Linked DNA regions of Homo sapiens: region 2 is linked to region 1. Evidence: fine-mapped expression QTL. Tissue or cell type: nasal epithelium. Region 1 holds a variant in brackets; the other region holds the start of a gene. All regions are shown on one strand. Distances are from middle to middle.

What was found. PIP is the estimated chance that this variant, and not a neighbour inherited with it, causes the effect. A credible set is the group of variants that fine-mapping cannot tell apart.
Region 2: LINC01018 starts here. The variant in region 1 is the best candidate, but not a certain one, in a credible set for the expression of LINC01018 in nasal epithelium (TOPMed, PIP 0.84).

What each region holds. Positions count from the first base shown.
Region 1 is chr5:6,300,919-6,303,679 of GRCh38, forward strand. No RefSeq gene overlaps it. Among named protein-coding and RNA genes, the nearest start is that of LINC02145, 35 kb to the right of the region's middle. The variant C/T (reference allele first, on the strand shown) is at 1,399.
Region 2 is chr5:6,580,583-6,583,082 of GRCh38, forward strand. LINC01018 (long intergenic non-protein coding RNA 1018) reads left to right here and starts at 1,554. Exons shown (of 5, transcript NR_024423.2): 1 at 1,554-1,684; 2 at 1,838-2,019.

The DNA.
Region 1 (2,761 bases):
GGGCCATGCTGTGCCAGTGCGAAGTGGCAGATCCTGAGCAAGAAAAGTACCCATATGTCCCTAAATAAATGTGTGTTCATCTGCGTTTGTTCAATGCCCTCATGCCTGACCCGGGGAGCCCAGCCTCAGTGTACTCCCAACAGAAGCACCTGCAGATGTGACAAGGAATCATGCAGAGTGACAGTCAGGGAGGCATCATTGCAAGAGCTAAAGCCATGTCAACCATCTAGATGTTGTGCATCTATTCCACTAACAATAAAAAGACGAGCCAATTGTTCTGCATTCACGCGTGGAATACTAAACAGCAAAGAAAATTAGAGAACTGGGGCTACGTGCAAAAATGCAAGCGAGTGTCACACCCATGAGGCGAACAAAGAAGCCAGGCATCACATAAAACACTCATCAATTCCATTTACGAAAATCTACTATCGGGTTTAGTGATGGTACCTACCAGGTATCACTTAAGAAAATCCAAGAAGGGGTTATCATAAGAGTCAGGATGTTTGTGGCTTGTAAGGAAGGAGAGTGGAGAGGGCAGTAATGGGGAGAAGGCACAAGGGAGGGCTTTCACGGCGCTGGAAATGTTCTCTTTCTGAATTTGATAAGCAGTTACAGGTTGTTTCATTGCTGTGTTTCACAGTATAATAGGTTACAGTTAACGTTTATGCTTGTGAAGTTTTCTGTATGTGTAGTATTAGACTTCAGAAAAATATTGTTTAAGTGAATTGGTGTATGCAAAAAAGAAAGGAGGGAGAGCAACGTTAGACAATTTAATCATTCATTCAGCAAATATTTATTGGCACTATGGGTAAAGTTGCCCTGAAAACAATGGTCCAGGCCGGGCACAGTGGCTCACACCTGAAATCCCAACACTTTGGGAGGCCAACATAGACAGATCACGAGGTCAGGAGATCAAGACCATCCTGGCTAACACAGTGAAATCATGTCTCTACTAAAAACACAAAAAATTAGCCAGGCCTGGTGGTGGGTGCTGTAATCCCAGCTACTCAGGAGGCTGAGGCAGAGAATTGCTTGAACCCTGGAGGCAGAGGTTACTGTGAGCCAAGATTGTGTCACTGCACTCTAGCCTGGGTGACAGAGCAAGACTCCATCTCAAAAAAAAGAAAGCAAGAACAACAACAATGGTCAGAAACAAGTTCAGTATCTAAGGCCCCTCTCTGTCCTACAAAGCCATCTCAGCCCAGAAGTTGTTCATCTTTAAATAGTCCCCTCACTTCCTCTCTGTGGGGGTCCGTCCCGCAGACCCAGCTGCACAACAGATGAATAATGTACTCAGACACTGATATTCAGTGAAAGAGTGGGCTAGGGGGCCAGGCCGCTGACTGAAAGAGTTGTAGCAGCTGTGGCCCTGACTCGCTGGCCCTGCTGGCATTTATT[C/T]AGCACACATTAAATGACAAAAGCTTTGAGTCAACACCACTAGAGTGTAATTAACCTGGTCACCCTCCTCCTGAGAGAGCCACCCTGCCCACAAATGATCAAGGGTTAGTTTTAGGACCACATGAGTAAACAAATTATTTAGATAAACTCCCTTACATTCATTTGTATCTACTTTAAGCTATTTACTTAAGGTAAGAGGATTAGGCTGCTTTCAGCCAGATCTATTACTGAAGTTATGCAACCCCCACAGCCTTCTAAGAAGGTTTGTGTCTATTTCTTATAACTATCTTTAACATTTTTCCCACCAGCCTGCCTGAACTCCCACACCTCTATGCTTGTGATCAGAAATACTGCAAAGAGTAAGAGATGTGAGTCCACACCTTGCAATCTGGATCCTGCTCTTCCCAAGAGCCGGTCAGAATCACGGCTCTCTTCTAACGATAACCCCGAAGAGAAAAGCTAGGGCTGGATCACAGTCATCCACCAGCATCCCTTATTAAATACTCTTCAAATTATTCTCATCTCACTTTTCGAGGGCAGGAGGAGCTTGGAGGTATGCAACTGCCCCCCCCAGAACTGACCTTGGTGCTGAACTTCTTAGAGGAAGAAGAGTGAATTCAGACTCACCAGATCTTCCAAATCTCCCTTTTTCTTAGAAATCTATCTGCTTTGAGTGGCTTTTCTACCATTTGAATTTTGAACTTATTACTTTAGCAGGTGAACATGGGAAAGAAATTTAAAATGCAAATATAAGGAACTCTTTCTCATATTTCCAGTGGGACAAAACACCACACATTAATAAAGTTATCCTTCTAAATCAAATTATGATGGATGGGTTATTTTCTTTCTAATGGACCAAACTTCTTGATAATCCCAAATAGATACCAAGAGCCAGGCTCACATGAATGTTTACTCTATAATCCCCATGATCCTATTACATTCAGGAGACAGAAAGGCTGGTTGGTACCTAACTCAATACACAGGATGTGTGTAGCTGGAATTTATGAACCAGCATCCCGGCAGAGGTGATCAGTCTGGCCGCTGTCAGAGAAGCAGACGTGATGAATTCAAATATTTTAGAATGCCACAGGCTGGCAAGCCACATACATCCTGCTGAGCGAGCTCAGAGGTGAACAACTACCTTCTGATTCTCACAGTGAAACATCACGTACAGTACTTCAGCTCAGAAAACTCCAAATAACTAGAAAACTTACTATAAACAAATTGTACTGAAATCTTAGTAGACTGTGGTATTAGTGATTTTTTTCTTGTAATTCTCAGTATCTTTCTTGATTTCTCTATATCTTTTTACTGCATTTGGAGAACACTTTCAAAGTCCCCTTGTAGCTAATTTAATACCTAT
Region 2 (2,500 bases), 280 kb after region 1:
TATATGAAGGTACCTGGTCAATACAGCTATGGGAGAAAGCTCATGGTTCAACTTTGCACCCTCTAATGAAATGGGGCATATATCAACATGTTTATTGGCCATTAGTGTATATATATATATATAGATAGATAGATATTTTTACCTCTTTCTCTGTTGATCTTTTTCTGTTTGATTTGGAGGCACTCTTTGTTTATTAAAGAATAAATTAGTCCCTTGATTTGGGATGCCTTTCCTTTTGTTTGTTTGTTTGGTGTTTTTTTTTTTTTTTTGTCATGACTATTTTATGGGTCTTTTTTCATTCAGAAGATTTTTGTGTGGTTGATTTTATTGTTTTTTTAATGTATCTGGGTTTGGGTTCAAAATTTTAAAAGCCTTCCTCACTCCAAGACTGCAAGTCTGCTGACTTGAAATCCCCACACTTCCCCCTCTCACACACACAATGTATAAAATTTAACTCTATTGCAGTTAAACTGCTAAATACTGTCAGCCAAAATTAAGGCTATTGAGGCAGAAATAATTTGAGAAAGGTTTACTGGAAGCCAAATGTGAGGATTGTTCCAGGGTCAGAATAGTTCTATGAGAAAGTTTAGGAGCAGGGAGGGGAGGGCACTCCTTACATTGGAGTTGTCCTTTCCATTGGAGGGTACCAGGGTGTCCCAAAGAGGTTACAATCATTAGCTTCAGATTACAACACAAACACATGCTAAAGCATTCTATCTGCAAGACAACTGGCAAAACTTCATGATTCAGAGACAAATCAGGGCCTGGTGCACTGGTTCATGCTTGTAATCCCAGAGTTTTTCGAGGCTGAGGTGGGGGATCCCTTGAGGCCAGAAGTTTGAGGTTACAGTGAGCTATGATGGTGCCACTGCATTCCAACCTGGGCCACAGCTCAAAGCCCCATTTCCAAAAAATAAATAAGTAAAACAGAAATAAATCAGTGTCTTTTTTCACATTGATCTGTATGTTGACAGTTGGAGAAGGGTACGAGAAGATCTGAGGGATTCACGAGAAGACCCTTTACTCAGGGGACAGGATGCAAACCATGCATCATGAAACCTTCCCCAAGCAGGTAACTCGGAAGGCTGCCAAGTGGGACCTGTAGGCTCTCAGCACCTAGCCGTGGAATGACAGATCCAAGCTGGAAGGGATACGGACAATCCATAGGTCCCACCCGCCTCTTTCAGCAGTGAGAGAATTGAGACACCGTCGGGTGTCTCCTGAGGTCACCCAGCTAACTGGCCCCAAGAAGCACAGGCCCCAGGAAGCCCACCCTTTGTCTCCCCCAGATTCTGACCAACCCCCACATCATCTCCTTGCCTGGTTTCTCTGGGGAACCAGGAAAAGAGCTGAAGAGTAGCTTCTGCTTTATAATGTTCACATTCCATTTCTAGTTGAAATTCAGTTGATTTTTAAATAATGCATCGCCTTAGATTGTGGGTTTTGGCAGGAATTTCAAGATACAGATAAAATTCCAGAGAGTAAAAAAGAGAAACACGTTTACTGCCAATTCCTTTTGAGGGGAATAGAAAAACATATTTTTGAATAAGCTCATCCTGGGTTCAGCTTCCCCTGTGAGAAGGACACATATAACAATAAGAAATTAAGGGTTCGGGAAGGAGAGGGGCCACCCTGTGCTCACCCCCACACAGCCCTGCAGGAAAACCCAGTGAACGGTGCCCAGGTGCCTGGCTGACTCCTGGGCCGGGAGGGGACATGGAGGGACAGTGGCCATCAGGCTCTTTGTGGACACTGGGGATTAACTACTGCTCGTTCTCAGCTCACTGGTGTCCAGCCCATCAATAACCTCATCAATAACCTAACTTTGGTCAATTAGGTTGGAGTCCGAAGGTGACTGATTTGCGGCAAGGTTTTCTCTCTTCCTCTGTAAAGTGGAGTCCTTCATCATTCATCGCAAGTAGACAACTCGCTTCCTAATGCCTCTGCATTAAGGAGCCAGGCGCTGCAGCTCTTTGGTACGTGACCTCAAATAGATTCATGCGTCCTTCTGCTGACACGGTGAGTACCTCCTGGAGTCCAGGACTCAGAGCATGGACACACCCTAACTCCAGCTAGGGGAGGGCGAAGCCACCTGCACCTGGGAGGCTGGCGCTGCCTAAGCGGGTCAGGCAAGTCCTCGCCTTGGAGGGGAGAGTCCTTAGTGATTTTCCCTGGCTCTGCTCCCACCGACGAGACGGACTCAGGAGGGGCGAACGGTATGTGGGGCGGGGACGCTTTGTTCAGATGGCGTCATCAACCCCAGGTCCGTCTGGTCTTTTTTATTCACTGCATATTAAGGTGCGTGCGGCCTGTGGCTGGTCCCTGTCCTGCACACCTGTATGGCCTGGACTAGGCCTGAGCGCCTCAAGGGCCGAGCTGGGTCCTCCCCACCCGCCGGATTCCCCAGCGCCCAGGCTGTCTCCAAAGAATCCCCCCGAGAGCAGGTCCCCGCTTCTCGGGCGTCGGGGCTCGCCGCAGTCACGCTGCACACCCTCCCGGC